Linked DNA regions of Homo sapiens: region 2 is linked to region 1. Evidence: fine-mapped expression QTL. A gene starts in region 1. The other region holds a variant in brackets. All regions are shown on one strand. Distances are from middle to middle. Region 1 holds the start of HMGN4 (high mobility group nucleosomal binding domain 4). Region 2 overlaps BTN3A2 (butyrophilin subfamily 3 member A2).

What was found. PIP is the estimated chance that this variant, and not a neighbour inherited with it, causes the effect.
Region 2: its variant is fine-mapped to the expression of HMGN4 in whole blood (INTERVAL, PIP above 0.99).

What each region holds. Positions count from the first base shown.
Region 1 is chr6:26,532,749-26,544,266 of GRCh38, reverse strand. HMGN4 (high mobility group nucleosomal binding domain 4) reads right to left here and starts at 5,901. Exons shown (of 2, transcript NM_006353.3): 1 at 5,766-5,901. It overlaps TRR-ACG1-2 (tRNA-Arg (anticodon ACG) 1-2), which reads right to left and starts at 6,769; the gene lies at 6,697-6,769. It overlaps TRV-CAC1-6 (tRNA-Val (anticodon CAC) 1-6), which reads right to left and starts at 6,213; the gene lies at 6,141-6,213. It overlaps TRT-AGT2-1 (tRNA-Thr (anticodon AGT) 2-1), which reads left to right and starts at 11,277; the gene lies at 11,277-11,350. RefSeq lists enhancers at 5,281-5,690, 6,951-7,615, 7,705-8,204, silencers at 6,181-6,230, 6,624-6,917, 11,305-11,394 and a cis regulatory region at 10,810-11,518.
Region 2 is chr6:26,370,719-26,381,953 of GRCh38, reverse strand. BTN3A2 (butyrophilin subfamily 3 member A2) reads right to left here. Exons shown (of 11, transcript NM_007047.5): 6 at 8,857-9,057; 7 at 8,658-8,678; 8 at 8,541-8,567; 9 at 7,581-7,627; 10 at 7,156-7,183; 11 at 3,642-6,157. The coding sequence ends at 7,587. Among named protein-coding and RNA genes, the nearest start is that of BTN2A2, 6.8 kb to the left of the region's middle. The variant C/TC (reference allele first, on the strand shown) is at 3,750.

The sequences.
Region 1 (11,518 bases):
AACTTAAAAAAAAAGGGATAAATAAAAATTGGACAGTGGTCATCTCTTGGGAGTTGGGAAAGGGATGTAGTTGGAGAAGGCATGGAGGTTAGTCCAGAGATGGGGGAGGTTGCATTCTCTTCTTTAAACTGTAGGGGAAGCACATGGCTGGAGTATTACCTATGTCTTACACAGAAAAATTGTATGTGTCTGCTCAAGAATTAATAAAAGTACTAAAAAATGTGGGTAGCCCAGAGCACAGATTGAGAGCCACACAGGTAGGAAATGGAAAATAGTTTGAGTTTGAGTAATTAGGACTTAGGCCTAGGGCTGGCATTCATGGGCACTGTGTGACTTTTTTAAAGCTTTTGTCTATCATACCTTCTGCCCCACCCTTGAAAACATTTACTGGGAAATTCTGTAACCTTGTGAGTGGCCACCATTCTACAATGTTATTATTATTTTTTTAATCTTGTCTCCAAATTGCTCCAGTTTTTTTTTTTTTTTTTTTTTTTTTTTGAGATAGAGTCTCAGAGTCTCGTTCTGTCACCCAGGCTGGAGTGCAGTGGTGCGATCTCGGCTCACTGCAACCTCTGCCTCCCGGGTTCAAGCAATTCTCCTGCCTCAGCCTCCTGGGTAGCTGGGATTACAGGCGCACGCCACCATACCCAGCCAATTTTTGTATTTTTACTAGAGACAGGGTTTCACCGTGTTGGCCAGGCTAGTCTCGAACTCCTGACATCAGGTGATCCACCTGAGAATTGCTTGAACCTGGGAGGCGGAGGTTGCAGTGAGCCGAGATTGTGCCACTGCACTCCAGCCTGGGGGACAGAGTGAGACTCTGCTTCAAAAAAAAAAAAAAAAAAGGTAATGGTGCCACTGAGACATACAGTTCTACTGATCTAACTACACCTGACCTGCTCTCTTCTGAAGAAATCCTTGCCTAGACATTACATGAATTTATTGCTAATTTTTGTCTTTTTCCCTTTATTTCAAATGCAACATTAAGGAATCATTTTAACAATTTTTAGGAAACAAAAGGAGTTACTCTTACAATGAAGGAACCAGTGAAAATCACTTGGTCTAATGGTAGGGTGACTTGATTTATACCTGTTGCCCTAGTATAATTATTCATAATGTTCCCTTTTACTTTGAAAGGTGACCTAACTTGGGCAATGAATAATAAGGTTACCCCAAATATTCTGCATATATTTTTAGAGGCCTTTATGTTATCAGAGAATGAGAGTGTTTAACCAAAAAGTGAGATTTTGGCCTAGCACACATTTCCCTAAGAATAGATACTCCATACCATTCTCCTTCCATCTCACTCCAAAATTGTTTCTCAGCCCATTTCCTGGTGTGAGAATGCTCACACAGTCTCTTTTCCTGGGTTCAGTCTTCTTCGAGTTAGATCCATTGAAGTCCATCCGAAGTAGGGGGGCCATGATCTCCACATGTCAAAGGCCAAAATACAGCAGGTGACAAAATAAAATCAGGAAAAATAGGCCACTGCCTGGATGCTGTATCTGAGTATATAAATACGGATTTAATTCTTGAAACTCACCTTTAGGAAGCTGATTAGGAGACCAGGTCACTGACTCTCTAGAGACCTTACAAATGTGGGAGACAGATACACACATAATGAAAAGGGACCAGAGAGATGGGTAAAAGCTCTTACCATTTCCATAAAGGACAAGGAGGTTGGAAAAGGAAGGAGCTCTCACCACACAGTGGTTTTAACTCAGAAGAAATTATTTGAGGTGGCGCAGAAGAGATTTTTAGGTAAATGAAACTCTTTTGTATGCTACTGTAATGGCATATATTATAAAATGGTAGATGTTATGCACTTGACAAAACCCACAGAACTTCATACAGTGAGTGAACCCTGATGTAAACTATATATTTTAGTTAATAATAAGCTATCAATATTAGTTCATCATTTGTAACAAATGTACCACACCAGTGTAAGTTGTTAATAACTTAGGAGAAACTGAGGTGGGGGAAAGGAAGTATGTGGGAACTCTGTATCTTCTGCTCAATTTTCTGTAAACCAAAAATTGCTCTGAAAAAAGGAAGTCTATTAATGTAAAAAAAAAATACGCATTTTAAGAGTTCAAAAAAATAATGTTAATGATAAAATATAAAAGTCATTACAAATACTCCTTCATGCATGTGGAAGAAAAGAAAAATTATTAACTGGCAGATAAATCTTACTAGTAATTGTACAACTTTTGGAAACATAGAGAAATGACTTTCAATGGTATCATCAGGGCAAGAAATTATCAAGACAGATACTGAAGTTATTTTCCCAAGACATGGCAACAATTTTAAAAGTTTTAGAAATATAACAGTTCCCCTTTGTTAAAATAACTCTTCCAATAACATTATATTACAAACAACAGAGCAAGTTAGTGAAAGTTTTGAATCACTCGTCTTCATTGCACAGAACTGGACTGAAATTCTCATGAAAGCTCTCAATTTAACTCCTCATTTAACCAGATTGCTGTAGGGGAGAAGAAACATCTGCTTCATCCTTCTTCCAATCCTTTTGTTAGCATGAAGACTTGCATTTTTATCATTAGAAGAAGATCATGATGTTTAAATTAACTGGCAAAAATAGCTTTAAAAAAAAAACTAATAGTGAAATAAAAAGCAAAATAGGGTATTATGGGTGGGCCCTAATTCAATATTACTGGTGTACTTATAGGAAGAGGAGATTAGGATACAGACAACATAGAGGAACACATCTAAGGATGTAGTGGGAGGTGGCCATCTGCAAGCCAAGGAGAGGCCTCAGAAGAAACCAAACCTGCCGACATCTTGATCTTGGACTTCTATCCTCCAGAAGTCAAAGAAAATTAATTTTTGTTGTTTAAGTCACTCAGCCTGTGGTACCTTGTTTCGGCAGCCCTAGCGGACTAACATAGGAGGGAACAGTGTAAGAATTTAGTGACTCAGGCAGGGCGTGGTGGCTCACGCCTGTAATCCCAGAACTTTGGGAGGCCAAGGTGGTCAGAAGTTCGAGACCAGCCTGGCCAACATGGTGAAACCCTATCTCTACTAAAAATACAAAATTAGCCATGGGTGGTGGTGCGTGCCTGTAATCCCAGCTACTAAGGATGCTGAGGCAGGAGAATTGCTTGAACCCGGGAGGCAGAGGTTGCAGTGAGCCGAGATTGCGCCACTGCACTCCAGCCTGGGCAATAGAGTGAGATTCTGTTTCAAAAAAAAAGGAATGTAATGACTAGGGAAACATCTTGGATTAGATTAATTTGGGGGTCTCACCCAGCTCTCAAAATATATTTTTCCATGTTTTTTCTCTTTCATAGCAAGCAAATCCATGGACCAAAATGCCACCTCATTCAATACTCATTTTCACCTCATCCCTAGCAAACACAAGGCACATTTTAGCAGCATCTTTTTGATCACTCGATGGATACGGAACTGGGTTTCTGGGAGGTAGTTCTAACTTGGGTTTTAGCCTCAATCCCACCCCGAAATCAGAAGGTTCCCCTCTCCCTCCCTGCCTCTTACTTAAGGAGAGATCGTGTTTGGGGGTTGGAGGGAAGATCTGGAAGAAAGTTAAGAACACCAAGCTTAGGAAGGAGAGAATAAAGGATATAATTAAAATACAATAAAAAATGCACAGGCAAATGCTGGGCGTGGTGGCTCACGCCTGTAATCCCAGCACTTTGGGAGGTGGAGGCAGGTGGATCACTTGAGGTCAGGAGTTCAAGACCAGCCTGGCCAACATGGTGAAACCCATTTCTACTAAAAATACAAAAATTAGCTGGGTGTGGTGGCATATGCCTATAGTCCCAACTACTTGGGAAGCTGAGGCAGGAGAATCACTTGAGCCTGGGAGGCGGAGGTTGCAGTGAGCCAAGATTGTGCCACTGCACTCCAGCCTGGGTGACAGAGCAAGACCCGGTCTCAAAAAAAAAAGAAAAAAAAAAAAAGATTCACAGGCAAGATGCAGTGTGCTACAGAAGCAAGAGGTCACATGGTGTCAGTCACTCTCCAGGGCGTTTGTTCTTCATCTTCCAAAGTATTAGAGACGCAGCATGAGTTTCCACGGAGGTTAAGTGAGAGAGACTGGGAGATGCAGGGGTAGAAAGGAAAGATGAGAAAACGCAGGGTGTCTAAAAGGGTAGGTTTGCTGCTGCAGCTTGCCAGAATGCATCTGCTTTAAAGAGAAGGAGTGAGCCATAAGCTCCCAAACAGTCACCCATCTGTAAAGGTTGGTTAGGGGCACACTCACCTTCCAGGCTAAAGTATTCCTGCTAACTGGGATCGGAGAAAGATGAAGAGGATAAATCCTTGTCATCTCCTAGGACCCTGGAACCTTTGCCCCCTTTCTGGGCACCATAATAACTTGCTTATATTTCTGAGTAGTACAGAGGGGATTTTAAATGAAAATGTATTAGACAGGTTGCTGTTGAGCACATGCCCAAGTTTATTGTCTTGCTAACCAAGATATTATCTTGCTAGCCAAGGTGTTGTCTTGTTAAGGGAACCAGCAAGATGACAAAAGAATGGACCTTTCAAGTCAACGTCTACCCAAGCAGCCTGTTTAAGAAAATGATAAAAAGAAAACAGCTCATTAACATTGTCCTTTTCTTTCTTTTCTTTTCTTTTTTTTTTTTTTTTTTTAATTTTGCGGACCCACCAAAGAATGCAGCCCTTCTTTTCTCATGGTCATAAAAATATCACATTCGGTTGGGCGCGGTGGCTCATGCCTGTAATCTCAGCACTTTGGGAGGCCGAGGCGGGCGGATCACTTGAGGTCAGGAGTTTGAGACCAGCCTGGCCAATATGGTGAAACTCCGTCTCCAACTAAAAATACAAAAATTATCCGGGTGTAGTGTTACACACCTGTAGTCCCAGCTGCTCGGGAGCCTGAGGCACAAGAATCGAGGTGGAGGTTGCAGTGAGCGAGATCGCACCATTGCACCCCAGCCTGGACAACAGAGTGAGACTCCGTCTCAAAAACAAACAAACAAAAACAAACACATCACATTCTTATTAGTCATTTGAGGGAACCTGGAGCAATATGATCTGAGAGGCTAGGCTTGGCTAATCCCTAGAAAAAGTAGTAATACATCTAAGAAAGAAATCCCTCTTAGGGAACACCCGAGGCTGCCAGGTGACACAACAAAACTTTCTCATAAAAGCGTTTGATTAATCCGATTAACTTGTAAGCAAGCCATGTGGCAGAGGTAAGAGGCCAAACACCAAGGCACCAGTCCTGATTCTAAACAAGTGCTGGTCCATTTCTTAACTTTGGGATCCATTTTTTCTTTGTGATGGAATAGCAAAAGGTCAAAGTGGAGGAGGACTCAGCCCTTGGGTGTCTCCTCAACGAGGGTTTCTCGAAGGTAAATTGGGGAGGAAGGGAGAGCCCACGGCAGGTCAGTCCAACCTGCCAGTCACCACCTCTTTAAGGCCACAGCCCTGCGGGAGCAATCCTTTCAAATCCCCTTCCTTCCTTCTTTTAGAACGCCCCTAGAACGCCGATTAGGACTTCTCATCCCGGTCGGGCCTGCGGCTCTCTGTGACCCCACCTCTGGATTCAGCTTTTCCCAGGGATTCACACTCGGAGCTCAGGAGAGATGCTGCGATTACTCTGGAGACGGGAAGACAGGCGGGGCTGACGGGGCCCAAGGCCCCTAATCATGACCGGGGCCAGCTGGCAGGAGGGTCCTAAGTATACGGAGGGCGGCGGGACCCCCCCCACCACGCCCCTCATTTTCCGGGGTAGCGCACAAAGTCTGTGAGGCACTTACCCGAGTCTCGTGGCCGTCCGAGGGGCGCGGGAATCCCAGCTGAGGCCCGTGACGCGCCGGAGCCCTAGGCGTGGGCAGGGCCAGCACCAGCCCTAAGACAGAGAAGACGAGCGGAGCCCGGCTCCGCCAGGAACAGGAAGGCGAGGGAAGGTGAGGATGCGCTTCCGGGGCTGCAGGCGGGGAGCCGCCCCGAGTCCAAGCCGGAGAGAGCTGGTTCTCCCCCTGGCGATACGTGTGTGAGCCTCTGAGGCCCGCCCTAAGCACTGCTGCCCCGATCTAGCAAGACAAGAAGACAGGAAATTTATGACAGCCTGAAAAAGTCTTTAAAAGATACACACTGGAAGAATTTCGTAGTAAGATGAGGAAAAAAAAACGTGTTTCCGCCCGGTTTCGAACCGGGGACCTTTCGCGTGTGAGGCGAACGTGATAACCACTACACTACGGAAACCCACTAAGGGCTTATTTTTCAGAGTAAATAGTTCTTCCTGCCTAGTTCCGTGTTTCTTCGTTCCAAGTGCGTGTTTTGCTGATGTGCGCGTGCGTCTCTGTACCGACCTCTCAAACCAGAAAAACCAATGAAAAGCTCAGACCCAGCCCCTCCAGTGTTCAAACTGAAGCCATAGAATTTATTCTACAAATGACTGAATAGGGAAGAACACAATAGAGACTTTAATTTAATCTCTGAACGGTCCTTCGTTCTTCGGCCAAAATGGCCAGGCAAGGCTGGGCACAACTTGGGTAGGGCGAGCGTTTCTCTGGCGTAGTTGGCGTTACCACGTGGTCAGTGGCAGAATGCTCCGCAAAGAAATGATAACCCCATATGTTGTCGGGAGCTGCCCCTCTTGCTTCTGAGTCTTCCAGGCAAATTTATCTTGCAGGAATTTCCTTACTCCTGCGGAGTCAGAAAGTTGTAAAACGACCCTGCTTACACCGAGCCAGCCAGGAGTCGAACCTGGAATCTTCTGATCCGTAGTCAGACGCGTTATCCATTGCGCCACTGGCCCTGCGCGTACCTTAGGGGCGAGGTATTTCATAAGAAACTAGGTTGTACCCGTAATATCTGGGTGAACGCCTGTAAGCCGCGTTTGCCCGCTGGTCCAGGCTCGCAGCGCATGGACTCTCTGGTAGCTACTTCTGCACACGCCCCGTGGCCTTCATTCCTTTCTCGGTCTGTCTCTGCCGGCTGAAAAATGGCGGTGAAAAGCAAGCCCTGCATCCTCTCTGCCCCAATATCACCGCTCCATTAATGCGTTCGTTCATTCAACCAGTATTAGTGTTCAAGGCACTGCAGATAACGGTGAAGAAAACATGAGAGACCCTTGCCCTCAAGATTACATGGCAGTGGCGGAAGCGGATAATAAAGCATTAAATAAACAAAATAATAGTGATAAGCGATTGGAGAAAAATAATAATAAAACAGGGAAAGAGGATAGGAAAGGCCAGCAGTGAAAGTGATGAATGAGGGATAAATGCTGATATCGGGGAAATGAGTGATCTGGAACAGGGAAAAATCGCTAGGGAAAAGGCCTGGAGGTGGAAGCAGGCTTGGGAGTTATGTTGAGGAGGCCGGTGCTCAGTGGAGAGGAATAGGAGATCCTGGGAGACCACCTCCAGCTTTATAGGCCCTTGTAAGGACTCTGGCCAGCTTTACAGGCTCTTGTAAGGACTCTGGCTGGTATTCTGTAGGAAACTGGAAGCCGTTGTACGGTGACGTGGTCTGAGTTTTCATTTGTCTCTCTGTGGGTCTTTTTTTTTTTTTCTTCAAATATTTTACTAAGCGAAACTGTGCTAGGCCTCCTCACTGCATGCTGCTTCTACTGCAGGGCCTTGATCTCAGAATTTGACAGCTTTATAAGGAGCATCATCAACCCGGACACTCATATGAATGTTCACTTTTTCACTTTGAAAGCAAACAAACGTCTCATATGTGTGTGTTTTAGTTTGTCCATATTTCTGAGAATAAATCATCCCCATGCCTGGTGAGCATTTTAAATAAGATGAGGTCTACTAAACAGAAGTAAAACTGCCTGATATTGAGAATATACACTTTGAGATTAGAAAATATTTGTTTTCAGTTCATAAGGTTTCAACAGCCGTTACAAAAAATATTCTGCTCTTTCTGCATAAATATTAAGGTAGACCTAGGTTATGGATTACTCCCTAGGCAATAGCATAGGGATCTTCTCGTTAGGTTTTGTACTATGGACCCCAAGGGCAGCTTGGTGATTCTGGACTCTATCTCAGAATAATACTTTTAAATACACGAAAGAAAAGATAAATATGTAAGATTTCAAAAGAAAACTAATTATGTTAAAATAGGTTACCAAAACTTTTTTTTTTTTTTTTTTGGAGACAGAATTTTGCTCTTATTGCCCAGGCTGGAGTGCAATGGCGCGATCTCGGCTCACCGCAACCTCTGCCTCCCGGGTTCAAGCGATTCTCCTGCCTCAGCCTCTCAAGTAGCTGGGATTACAGGCATGCTCCACCACGCCCGGCTAATTTTGTATTTTTAGTAGAGACGGGGTTTCTCCATGCTGGTCAGGCTAGAGCATCCCTGGAAGTCACAGGTCCCACCTAGCACCTTAAAAATGAGCTTTAACCCAGCTGGCTGTAGGCTCTGTCCACATTCAGTCTCCTTAGTGTTTGTCTATAAAAATTTATCTGTGTTTTGCAGGCTTTGAAGACCTCCCTTGGGTGCCTCAAATTTCTTAGCCATATTCACTACAATAAATGCTTTCAGCTGGGCGTGGTGGCTCACGCCTGTAATCCCAGCGCTTTGGGAGGCCGAGGTGGGCGGATCACGAGGTAAGGAAATCGAGACCAGCCTGCCCAACATGGTAAAACCCCGTCTCTACTAAAAATACAAAAAATTAGCCGGACGTGGGTCCCAGCTACTCGGGAAGCTGAGGCAGGAGAATTACTTGAACCCGGGAGGCGGAGGTTGCAGTGAGCCGAGATCGCGCCCATTGCACTCCAGCCCAGGCAATAAGAGCAAAACTCTGTCTCAAAAAAAAAAAAAAAGAAATGCTTTTGCTTTGCTCTTGGAAATCTTTCTACATCTTTTCTGACAGTTCCAGTTTCAACTTCCAGTCTTTTCTTCAGCATATATCGGAGAAAGAGTCCAGATATATAAATCTAGATATATATCTATATATATCTAGGGTGAGGACTGGCAAGTCTGAAACCTGTAGGGTTGTAGGGCAGGCTGGAAACTCTCAGGCAGAAGCTGATGCTGAAGTCTTGAAACAGAATTTCTTCTTCCTTAGGGAGGCCTTTGTTTTGCTCTCAAAGCCTTTTAACTGATTGGATAAGGCCCATCTACATAAGGGAGAATCTTTTTTTAAGGTTAACTGATTGTTAACCACATTTACAAGATAACTTCACAGAAACATGTAGGTTAGTGTTTAATTGAATAACTGGGTAGCCTAAGTTGACACATACAACTATGACAGTGGTGGACTCTTCTCTGTGTTTCAGTGCAGTTTTTTTTAGTTTCACTCCCAGGCACATGGAAAACTACACCATCTGCCACTCTCACATTGTTTTACATGACTGTCGGCAGTCTGTGACACAGCCACCTGCATCCTCTCCAATTTCAGACGTGTGGAGCGGAGCCAATGTGAGGGTTCCATGGTTCCTAATCACAGTCGGAACTGAATAGAAGATATGGTTCACACCAAGAGTTCTGTAAATGATTGCTCAAAGTCTCAATTTGCTTCCAAGGCTCATCTCTGGCTAAACAATTCCTTTGACATTCTAGAAATTCTGTGCAAACTTCGTCAGCTGCCAAAGGAAAAACCAAAATAAAATACTATTGGCTCTGCTGTCTGGGGCCTGCCACAGTTGGGTTAAAGCCATATTAGGTGTGACTGTGCTATTTATGATGATTATATTGGCTCCAAGCACACTAATAATATGATGGCTAATCTTATAATAATAAAGTAATAAGTGCTTATTTCATGAGTCTCAATCAAAGTGAGTGCTGAATTCATAGACTGGCATCTTTTTTTTTTTTTTTTTTTTGAGACGGAGTCTCGCTCTGTCGCCCGGGGTGGAGTGCAGTGGCGCGACCTCAGCTCACTGCAAGCTCTGCCTCCCAGGTTCACGCCATTCGCCTGGCTCAGCCTCCCGAGTAGCTGGGACTACAGGCGCCCACCACCACACCTGGCTAATTTTTTTGTATTTTTAGTAGAGATGGGGTTTCACCGTGTTAGCCAGGATGGTCTCGATCTCCTGACCTCGTGATCCGCCCGCCTCGGCCTCCCAAAGTGCTGGGATTACAGGCGTGAGCCACTGCGCCCGGCCGACTTGCATCTTTTTATAAAAATGAAAACTCTAGTCGGCGTGACCTTTTACTGTTCCCCCCATCGCATACATAGGCAAAGGTACATGCCAATGTCTGCCTTAGACTGTGACAGAGAAATCCTTCAAATATTGATACAGCTAAGGAATACTGAAATGTCTGTTTCAGCATAACCACCAGGACAACAGATTTCAAGTAAAACAGCCAAACATAATTACAGGTTTCATTTGGGAAGTTACTTTCACAGCTGTGCCAACAATTTGTATACTCTTCAGAATTTCATTAAACCCCTTTATTCAAATTATACTCCCAAGATCAGATTTATTTTTAATAGAGAACAGAATAAGTTGGAAACACATAAGCCCCCATGACAATATAGAAATTTTCTCTCTCTCTCTCTCTCTATATATATATAATATATATATACACATACACACACACACACACACACACATATATATAATGCTGATTTGACACATCAAATCAGATCCTTTGGACAAGTATTAGGACAAGAAAGCTTTTCTTTCTGTGTAGCTATACCGGGAAGGGGACTTCTTTATCTCTTTCCAAGATTAAGTTGTTAATTCTTAAATCTTGCATTTTTAAGAAGCAACTCTGGAACCCCATTAGTTAATCTTTAATAAGCAAGAAGCAGGTAGGTGGAGCCCAGTTTTAACGGAAAGAAATGGGGTAAGGAATGACTGGAATTTTAATCTAATTCCAGTTTAATTTAAAAGCCATGAAATAAGAAACAAATAGCTTCCTTCCTGCTAGATCAGTTCTTGGTGCCGTAAGTGTTCTGGTGTAAATGCATTACACGACTCGGAGGAGTGTTCTGTAAATGTGGCTGGCTACCCGCTCTCCTACCCTCTTCTCCCTGAAGCCCGAGGTCATACTTTATCCACGTTAGGATGAGCTGCTTGCTATTTGAGGCAGTTTCTCGGAGGACTCTCCTGTTCGCCCCGGGGCGGGGGTCAGGCTATCGCCAGCCTTTCCCTCACCCCCCACCTCCCCCACGCGAAAAACCTCGTTATCCTGCAGCTGAGCGGTTTCTTAGGTCTTTTGGGGCGAAGCCAAGGTTAATCTTCAGTGTCTGAAGAAGCGTGTAGCTACTTTCAAACCTCAGTAACAAGAAAGTGTATCAATGCACAGAACAAAGGCAAAGATCATCTCTTTTCTATGCTCATTTGTACCACCGCAGGCATGGTGGCTCCGTGGCTTAGCTGGTTAAAGCGCCTGTCTAGTAAACAGGAGATCCTGGGTTCGAATCCCAGCGGGGCCTGTTGTAGTTTTCCTGCATTCAAAGTACCCACGGAACAGTTGAAGTATGCGTGAAAGGTTATTTTCCCCTATGGGGCTCCATCAAAGTGTTTTATATGCGTCCGGTGTGAAACCTCCTTGTTTACGAAAAAGAAGCAAAGATAAATTTGGCTTTCTTTCAGAATAATGA
Region 2 (11,235 bases), 160 kb after region 1:
ACACTTTGGGAGGAGGAGGCAGGCAGATCACTTGAAGTCAGGAGTTCAAGACCAGCATGGCCAACATGATGAAACCCCGTCTCTACCAAAAAAAAAAAAAAAAAAAAAATTAGCTGGGTGTGGTGGCACATGCCTGTAATCCCAGCTACTCAGGAGGCTGAGGCAGGAGAATGGCTTGAACCTGGGAGGTGGAGGTTAGGGTGAGCTGAGATCATGCCACTGCACTCCAGCCTGGGTGACAAAGTGAGACCCTGCCTCAAAATAAATAAATAAATAATAAAATATACACAAATAAATGCTTAGTCTAGAGGCCTCCAATTCCCTTCTGATTCAATTCAAAACTTTGCAGTTAATACACTAGCAATGGCTCCACAGTGGCCTTGCATCACAACGTTGCACTCCCTGTGGCCAGCGCTCCCTTTCCCATGCCATGCCTTTCACTTGAATTGCTTGCTCCATCTTTGCCCCTTGAAATCCTGCCCAGCCTTCGTGCCTACTTCCTCCAAGAACAACTCTGAATGCTCCTGCCTGAAGTGCTCTCGGCCTCTTCTAACACCCATATCTTTTGCTGTTCCCATGTCCTGTCTTCTATTATTGTTATCCAGGTATCAACTGTGTCTTTGCTGTGACTGGAGTACCTGTTCCTCAGGACAGACTTCTGCAGGATGTGATTCTTCTCTCCTTACAAGGCCCAACTCTAAGCTCTGCTCTCAGCTGTTGTTCAATGCATGAGTGACATGCTCAGGGTAAGGTCATTCCCACCACAGGATGGCCCAGTTCCTGGAATCATTCGGCACCAGAGTTCGAGAGAGAGGTGGCAGCACTATTAAGCCACTCTAGATCAGAAGATCAAGGACCAGGAAGGATGAACCAGTAGGTCCCTTCTGCAGAGAAAGCTCTTTGATGAGAATAAGATAAAGAAAGGCCTAAGAAGTGTTTTTACTATTGAATTGACACTTGAACTGTCCCATTCTCATACAGAAGCCTCACTCATCACCTGATATTTCTGGATTATAATTAAAATTGGATCCTGGGTTGAGTGGCTAATGAGGGTAATTATGTCAGTATTAGAATATTCCAACCAGGACTGGGCAGCTGTTGGGAAAGGACAGAAGAGAAGGATGCAAGTGTCTAAGAGCATGGCCACCCAGGATGAGACCTGACTTTATATTTTTATTTGAAGAAATAAGACCCAGGGCTTTGAAGCAGCTTGTGCAAGAAGCATCCAGCTAAGCCAGGCCTCAACCTCTGCCAAAGTTCATCTGAGCAGGAGGGAAACATGTGTGTTCTGAGAAGGAAGAGGATCATTTGGCCATGGGGTAGCTTAGCAAGAAACCAGGTTCTACTGGGGTGTGCCAGGTTAGATAGTAATGATCTAACCCAATCATACTGTGTCCTGGGATGGAAAAAGAGACAGGAAGGGTCACTTCAGAAAGATTCTTTATGGACATGGTGTACCTGCCAATCCTGGAAGAACCGGGACCCGGAGTGAGCAATGATTCACTGTTGCTGTGCAATAAACTCCAATCTTTGAAAGTAATATGGGTGTGTCATCTCCAGCTATGGAGTACTCCGAGGGGATCCACAGGCATCTTGGCACACAGAAAATCCATTTCTACTTTGTCCTGTTCAAATTTTAGTTTCCTGACTCACAGAATCAATGAGCATATTATAATGCTTATGTAAGCTTCCAAATTTTACAACTGCCGCAATATTAACTAGTACATTTACCTTGTCTCAACACAACAAATTTTTTCAAAGAGAAGAAATGATATTGGGCTTCTAAAAGAAACAAACATGATAAAATTGCCTAAGCTCTCCATTTGGAGCCTTCTCTCTGCTCATCTGCTTTGGTCTTCTCTGCAGTCCACCATCCTTTAGTCCACAGCATGAATGGAACATTTCTTCCCACAGCTCCCATGCACATCTGTTACAGGAGTAACTAGCCACATGTCACTTAGTCCTCTGGCCTAGCCTGGGTCAGTGTCCATCCTAGACCCAGTCCATGTGGTGAGGCTGCAGGGCCATGTGATATGGGCATGTATTGGAAGACAAGAGGTCACTAATGCTAAATAAATGTGGTGCAGGGAGGGCAGAGAGACCTTGAAAGGCATTCACTATATTCTCAGAGGTGAGCCCTTATAACTGATGCTGTTGATGCCCCATCCCTTATTCTCTTGGCCTATCACAGTTTGCCAATAGCTGAGGCACAGTTTTCTGCAAAGATGACAACCTTCCCACCTCCAGTGAGTATCTCCCTTCTCCTTTGCCTGTGAGCTTTATCACACCCATGATAGTTGCTTTTCTGCAGTTACATAGCCCAATCTTAAAGTACATTAGAATTAACACTCCCAGGCCAATCTTCAAACAATTCAAGCAAAGGAGGATGGGAAGTGGAGATAAAGTCGCAGGCCCTGTAGTCCTTAGGAAGATTCTGAGCTATATCACACATTTCATATGGTTTCTTAGAGAGTCGTAAAAGGGATTAAGCCAAGTTTTCCACATGATAACTGACTCATGAATGAACTCTTTATCTCATTTCTCATGTAATTGGCTTTCTTTCATTTCTCAATTTATTTCTGCACTTGTGTTTCCTGGGATCACTTCCCAAATCAGTGTGGTGAGCTGAGTAGTGCCCCCCCCCGCCCACCCTTTGAGTTATATCCACTAAGAAACTTATGAATAGAATGTATAACATGGCGAAATGGATGTTACACAAAATTAAAATTATGGACCTTAAATTAGAGAGATTATTCTAAACTGTCTGTTGGACTCAGTCAAATCACAGGAGTCTTTAAAAGTAAAAGGCAGACTGAGTGCCGTGGCTCATGCCTATAATCCCAGCACTTTGGGAGACCAAGGTGGACAGATTTCTTGAGCTCAGGAGTTTGAGACCAGCCTGGGCAACATGGCAAGACCCTGTCTCTACAAAAAAAATACCGGGGCATGGTGATGTGGGCCTGTGGTCTCAGCTACTTGGGAAGCGGAAGTGGGTGGATTGCTTGAGCCCAGGGGACAGTTTGCAGTGAGCCGAGATCACGCCACTGCACTTCATCCTGGGTGACAGAGCGAATCCCTGTCAACAATAAATAAATAAATAAATAAAAGGAAGGAAAAAAAGGAGAAGGTAAAAGAATCAGAATGATACAATGGAGAAAAAGAACTAGGAGAGGAGACTCAATGTACTGTTGCTGCTTTGAAGATGGAGGAAGGGAGCTAAGAGTCAGAGTGTGGCAGCCTCTAGAAGTGGGTACAGTCCCTGGCTATAAACCAGGAAACAACTGGGACCTCATTCCTGTAAATGAAGGGAACTGATTCTGCCAACGATCTGAATAAGCAAGGAAATAGATTCTTCCTTAGAGACTCCAGAAAGGAATCCAGCCTGCAGACACCTTGATTATAGCCTGGTGAGATCCCTGTGGGACTTCTCACCTACAGAACAGTGAGATAATAGATTTGTGTTGCTTTAAATCTATGAATTTCTGGTAATTCAGATGGCAACAATAGAAGAGGCATCCAATAAGGGTTTTGTGAAAATGCTGCAGTGAGGCAAACTGAAACTGTGGGGAGTACAGTGGGTATGTAGACTACTCTACTGTGCTGAGTAGACACCACAGTCTAGAAAAAACCAAGTTGAAGAGTCAGCATTATTAACAAATTTATTGAACAACTAGAACTTGACAAGCACTTGCCCAGTAGAGGGGATACAGTGGTGAGCAATAATAGTGATGATAATGAGGAGCAGTTTT[C/TC]CCTAGCAGGCAGCAGTTGAAAGGAATATGGGTTTAACATCCACCAATGACCAGGAGTGGACAGATCCTTTTCCAGGAGACTGAGTCCATAGTGGGATTAAAAACATCCCTGTAATTCTTCTAGCTTCCTTCATCCAAATTACCAATATTACAGAGAATCTCTAGGGTATTTGCTCTGCCTGGAAACCTTGACTGAAGGAAGGCTGGCTCTGGCTGCACGATCACTTATCACATTTGTTGGGTGGGAACACATCTGTGCCCCATTATTAACTGAGTGTGGCCTCTAGTCTCTTTCAAAGTCACATGCCCTGTGGGAACTGCAACGTTATTCTCTCAACCAAGACACTCTGCAGAGCCAATCCAAGGAGTGCTGGGTCTAAGGCTCTGATAATCAGCTGGGAAGGAGTCCATAGGGGTCTTAACTCCACAACCACTCACAGTGATCTCGATCCTGGAGCTGTCCTGGGAAGGGAACCTCAGGGCTACATGTGGGCTCTTCCCATGCAGGAAAAATCAGGCTGGAAAAGAACGGGCAATTGGCCAGGGACTGAAGCTGAACATCTCCCAACTGCACAAATTACCGTGTGAGTTATGTAAGCTACTTAATGTTGCCCTGCCTCTGCTTCCATACTTGCCAAATGAGACTACCTGACAGGGTGTTGTGAGGATTAAAGGAGTGACACCCACCAAAGCTCATAACACAGCACTCAGAACGTTTTAAATTCTCCATTAATGTTAGTCATTGTTGTTCAGATCCCAGCTCTGTTGTTCACTATTCCTGTCTGCTTTGTAAAGTCAATACACTTTTCTACACCCCAGTTTCCTTATCTGTATAAAGGGGCCAATAAGGTGGCACCAAACTCAAACAACTGTCCTATGGAATAATTGAATGAATATCAGTAAAGTGCTTCAGTGTGTGCCTGTAGCTTTATGGTTCTGACTGGCTGTTGTGGAGGGTGAGACCCTTAGCTCCAGGCTGGGCAGGGAGAAGCAGAGATGTTACTTCAGCCTGAGGCTCCCCACTTTCATTAGCTAAGCCTGGGGTCAGTGGTATCTCCAGGGAATGATCAGGCACTAGGTCGGGATCGGGGGAACTCTCTACTTTTGGTATTGGGCAAACGGTCAGGGCAGTGGGCTCCAAGGTCAAAATTCTGAATACAGGATACAGAGGCTCAGAGGAAGAGGCGTGCAGAAATGTGTAGATATGAGATCCATCCGTGGCATTGTAGAACGAGATATGTCCAGTCTCATAGTCCAGGATGACCCCCACTTTCCTAGGAGGCTCAGGAAGTTTCAGGTTGGTTCTGGGCTCAGTGAGAGCCCGATACTTATTCCCATCAGTCAGGCCCATAGTCCAGTATCCGTTCTCCGGTGTCATTTTGACCCAAACTTTTTTCCTCTCCACGTTCTTACTACATACCCCAATATGCCACTCTTTTCTGTCCCCCACTTCCACCTCCCAGTAGTGTCTCTCTGACATGAAGCTTTCACAGCCAAGCACACAGTAACGCCATTCAAATCTCTCAGGGTTGTCTGGTAGGTCATGGGGCTCCTCAGCACGCTGTACACTCCTCTGGTCCTCAGAAACAAGGAGGATGGCATTTGCCATGTCTGGATACAGAATTACATCTGCTGCAGAGAGTTTGAGGAGGTGTCCATGGGGTCAGCCATTTTTCCTGGATTTAAGAGCCACAGCATGCAAGGCTTGGGCCATGCTGAGGAGGTCCTTCCAGAACCCCGTGTCCCTAGCCTGCCCTGAATGTGATTCTCTCATCAATGTCATTGGTGAAAGCCCCAGGGGTCTAGTGACCAGAGGGGAAATGAAAGTAAGGTCAGTATCTGCCTAACCCAATACCCTGATGCGGCCCCAAGAAGCAACAAGGATCCTCTTTCTACATTTTTGTTGTTTCCCTCCCCACATTGATTCTGCCCACTGATGCTTTATACTCAGAGGTTAATTTTCTTTTCTTTTTTTTTTTTTTTTTTTTTCTTGAGACAGAGTCTCGCTCTGTCTCCCAGGCTGGAGTGCAGTGGCGTGATCTCGGCTCACTGCAAGCTCTGCCTTCCGGGTTCATGCCATTCTCCTGCCTCAGCCTCCCGAGTAGCTGGGACTACAGGTGCCCGTCACCATGCCCGGCTAATTTTTTATTTTTTGTATTTTTAGTAGAGACGGGGTTTCACCGTGTTAGCCAGGATGGTCTTGATCTCCTGACCTTGTGATCCGCCCTCCTCAGCCTTCCAAAGTGCTAGGATTACAGGCATGAGCTGCTGTGCTGGCCCTCAGAGGTTAATTTTCAATCTTCACTCGACCACTCGTGAGCTAAATGAGTTCCCCTTTTCTGCAGTCTATTTTTCCATACATCCAATTTATTTAACAAGGTGGAGCCTCATCTGAAGCATTTCCTCACCTGAAAAATGGGGATAAACATATGAATCTCTAGCGCTGTAGAAGGCAATCATATTATTTACTCAGCCCACAGCAGGCCATGAAGGAAGCTCCTCATCTTCCTGATAGCTGCAAGGCCGTCTCTGTGCTGGGCTCTGTGTGGGGCCTTATATGCCCTAGATTCACTCTCCAGCCTTCAGCTTTCTCCACCCTCTTCTGGACCCCAGGAATCTGTCCTCTATGGACAGTGCCACTGGGCTCCCTTGTCCTCTGGTTTGCTGCTGTGTTTGGCCAATGGGAGGCCCTGATAGAAGATTAGAAGGAGAAAGAAAGGAGATACACACCGTTTAATTTCCTGCTTCCTCCCTGCCAGCAGCAGCTGGTGGTGCTCTAACAAGGCCCGAGGACTCTTCTCAGGAAGCTCCCTCGTTAAGCTACCTCTTTCTCTGGGTTCCAGTAATTGCCTCCCCTTTTTAGCCCTCCCAGGCTAGGGGTGGAGACAGCTCCCCACTGTTGGGAACCATGGGGGCACTGCACTTTTCCTTGTTGCTTTCCCTTAACCCTTCTTTCTGGAAACCTTGTCCAACTACCCAGTTTGAGCTCACCATCTATTTCTTGCTAGGTTTCTGCCAAGCATGTTCATTATTCCTTCAGTCTTCACCTCAACCCCCATGAAAAACAGATTGCAATCATCATCTAAAAATGTGGAGGCCAAAGCTTGGAAGCATTAAATCCTTTGAGGAGATACAGGCAGTAGGTGGCATGAGAAGCCTGGGAAGGACAAAGTTCTTTGGGCAGGCATCACCTCCTCTCCTTGGCATTTCCATCCTCACTCTCCCTGCAGTATTACTCAGTGTGTGTCTCCTTCCCTTCACCTCCACCCTTTATGCGTCTTCCTACCCACGAAGGAAGTCAAGGGAACTTTTCTGCTCCAAATCACAAGAGTTGGAGAAGAAAAAAGGAAAAAGGAATATAGTCCCTCAGGTTGTTGGTCCAGGGAACATGCAGTGATTTACTCACCAGGCTTGAAGAGGGCCATTTTTCCATTCTGAAAGGAAGGAGACACAGATAAGAAAAAGGTCAGTATTTTTGTACTTTTCCCACTCCATTCTCCTCTCACTACATGTTTTCTCTCCTTTTCTTTAGAGTCTCTTCCAGGGTCCAGCTTCCCTCCTCTACAGCTCTGATGGATCAGAGGTGGCACCTTCTCAAAAATGTCAGGCTTGGCTCCCTGTGTCATGGGGGGTGCAGGATGCATGGCCAGGCTTTACAAGGGGGTGTGCAGGATCAGGAGTTTCTCAGAGGCTCCAGAAAAGCGGAGGTGAACCCCCACCACACAGAAATTGAGTCTTTAGATTAGATCTAATTAATCCAGCTGAGAACATCCACGGGTCACAGTGGAGAAAAAGTTGAAATATTCAGGGCATGTGACCCAGCAAACTTACAGAGCATCAGGCTGACTTATTGGTATCGGACGAAGACTCCTCTCCACCTACAATGAAAGAAAGGTAGAGGTGTCACCAGAACTCTGCCTTTTCTGTGTTGGCCCCTTCCCCTTCTTTTTGCATCCATCTAGTCTTTTTTTTTTTTTTTTTTTTTTTTTTTTTTTTTTTTTTTACCATCCCACCCTTCCCCATGGTCTCCATCTTCAGGTACAATTCTTTCTTCACCTCTTCTTAATATCAAGTCTGGGAACATCGGTTGAACGCTAGTGGCAGGGCAGGCACTGTGAGAGTTCCTTCCCAATGGGGTCCAGCTCATCTGTTTTGAATGTGTACCTGGGCATAGGTGTCACCATGTCTATATGTGTATGCCTAGGAGTACAAGATTCATCCTTCTCAATCTGTATCATTTCGTACCTTGCTCTAAAAAGAATTTGGGAAATTTAATGAGCAATTTCAGGGACTAGTTTTTGAAAGCAGTTATGATCTATCTGTACCAACTGAGCCACTGTAGCTACTCCTCTTTATTAGACACACTTTTCTCCCTCCCTCTCTCTTTTCTGATTTTCTTATTTCTTAAATCTTCCATTCTTGTTTTCCTTTCAACAGCCTCTAGATTATGGGAAACAACAAGTAAGTTTCCTGCCATAGAAAATGCACCTCATCCTTCTCTTCCCTCTTCCTTTTGAAGTGTACCCCTGGATATTCCTCAGTGCTTTTTAGAGCTTAAGGGTCTGTAGCCCCTAGTACAAAGAGATTGAAGACCTCTTTTTTTTTTTTTTTTTTTTCTAGAGAGAAAAAGCACTGGGTGGTTTCTCCAAAGAGCCACACTTGTTTTCTTTTTCTGGGTAAAGGGATCCAAGACCACTTTTCAACCCTGGGCTATGACTTATGGGCTGGAAAATAATGAAGCAGAGAGAGAGTAACAGATTTGAATTCAGAGAAAATGTCAAAGCCACTCACGAGTCAAGTACTGGATTTTTTTCCTCTCTGCAATGGAATGAACAGGGAAGAGTCATCAAGGTGCTCAAAGCGAGGATAGGAAGACATGTCTGGATCTCTGGGGGAATGGTAACTTACTGAGTTCCTCCTGGAGGCTCTCTGGAAAATAACCAAAAAAAAAAAAAAAAAAAAAAAAAGATGAACTGTTATGGGTGAGGTTGGTGTTTCGGGAAATAAACCTTAAACATGATGCAGTGCCAGGGTAGGGGAGAGAGGTGAGGTTTTCAGGCTGGGGCATGCAAGCCAAGAGCTTAGATTCTCTGCTTGCGTTGGATACCTCTTAGGCTTATTTCCCGCTCTGTTGCAGCATATCCCATTTCTTTCATCTCTTGCTCACTTTCTATCTCACTGGACAGAGCAGTTATTTCCTTCTGTTGTCTCCACAAGAAGTAACTGGCTCCGGCGAGAAGCAGCAGCAAGATAGGCAGGGTCCCTGCCAGGGCTGCGATCCAGGGCTGGGCGCTCCTGAAGAAGGGGTCTGCGAAGGGGAGAGCTGTAGGTCATGGGCGCTGGTGCGCTCAGCCTCCCCAGCCTGCAGCACCCCAAGCTTTAGCTGCTCAGCTCAGGTCGGGGGTGGGGAATCTATCTCATGAGGTTAAATAAGGATTCTCTCCCTAAAGTCTCAGAGGACTATAGATAAGACTTTGGTAAACCCTCACTACAAGCTACTACTATTACTTATCTTGAGATGTCTGCCTCTCACATGGAAAGTAACTTGAGCAAAGTCATACACATTTTTTCTAAATATTTTTTCAATAGGTAACACATTTACATCGTTCAAAACTACATACACATAAAGTCACGCAACTCTCTCATTCACCCTGTCCTCCCTCCCTCCATGTATTAACTTCTTAGTCCACTTAATATGATGCTTAGGAACATAACCTGTGGAGTCAGAGGGTATGGGTTTCAATGCTGGCTCCCCCATGTGACTAGCAGTGTGATGTTGGACTACTTACATAACCTCTCTGTTTGTAGTGGCCTAATCTACTAATGTAAAATGAGGGTAATGATAATACCTATTTCCTGAGGTTAGAAGAATTGAATTAATACTTATAAAGTGCCTGATGTACAGTAAGTGTTACAAAATTGCTTGTTGAAGTTTAAAAATGTAAACTAACCCAATTGAGAACTAAAAAAAAGTAAATTAAAATATATTCTTATTTTTCCTCTTGTTTAAACTAAAAATAGCATTCTATACACGTCCCTCTGCATCTTGCTTTTTCTGTGTAAAGTGTATCTTGGAGATCTTTCCATATTAGTATAGAGAGAATTGCTTCTTTTTCCTTTTACAAACTGTGCAGTATTCCCTTGTATGGAAGTTCCCTGGCAGTGAACATCTGCACAGTTTCTAACCTTGTGCAATAGTAATCAGTGCTATAAGAAACCTTTTACAGGCCGGTTGCAGTGGCTCACGCCTGTAATCCCAGCACTTTAGGAGGCTGAGGCGGGTGGATCACTTGAGGTCAGGAGTTTGAGACCAGCCTGGCCAACATGGTAAAACCTTGTCTCTACTAAAAATACAAAAATTAGCTGGGTGTGGTGGCACATGCTTGTAATCTCAGCTACTTGGGAGATTGAGGCAGGAGGATCACTTGAACCTGGGAGGCAGAGGCTGCAGCGAGCTGAGATTGCACCACTGCACTCAAGCCTGGGCAATAGAGTGAGACTTTGTCTAAAAAAAAAAAAGACACACACACAACGAAAAACAGAAACCTTTCACATGGATCATCTCATACAAATGCAAGCTTATCTATCAGATAAATTCCTAGAAGTGGAAGTTTGGATCGATAAGTGTGTAGTTTGGATAGATATTGCTATAGAGCCCCCAACAGAGGTTGACCTAATGCACATCAAAAATACAGGAAGTTACATGAGCAAATGACTGAGAGTCACTGCCTTCCTACATTCCTATGAGAATCATGTATTATAAGCCAAAGCAGTTTTGATTTTTGCAAATATCATAAGTGAAAAATTATTTCATATGTTTACCCAGTGAGTGAGAATGAGCACCCTTTTGTGAGTTATTTCCTTTTCTGTGAATTGATAATTCATGGGCTTTGTTAACATTTTTTTTACTTGGTTTCTATTTTATTTTATTTTATTTATTTTTTGAGACAGAGTCTCGCTCTGTAATCCTGGCTGGAGTGCAGTGGTCTGCTCTCACTCACTGCAACGTCTGCCTCCTGGGTTCAAGTGATTCTCGTGCCTCAGCCTCCTGAGTAGCTGGGATTAGAGGTGCACTCCACCACACCTGGCTAATTTTTTGAATTTTTAGAAGAGATGGAGTTTCACCATGGCCAGGCAGGTCTCAAACTCCTGGCCTCAATGATCTGCCTGCCTCGGCCTCCCAAAGTGCTGGGATTACAGGCGTGAGCCACCATGCCTGGCCAAAACTTTTTACTAGGTTTTTAGAATCTCCTTCTGATTCAAGGAGATCAGCTCTTTCTCTATGATATGAGTTTGTAAATATATATATATAACCATTTTGTCATTTCACATTATATAAGGAGCTTATCTTAATGTTTTTCCTCCAATTCCCATTGCCTGTCATACTTTCTGGCAGATAGGAAATGTTCAGAAAATGTTTGTGTTACGAACACCTTTATGGAGGAAAGAAGCTCCCCTGGCACAAAGAGGAGCCTCCAGGTCTGTG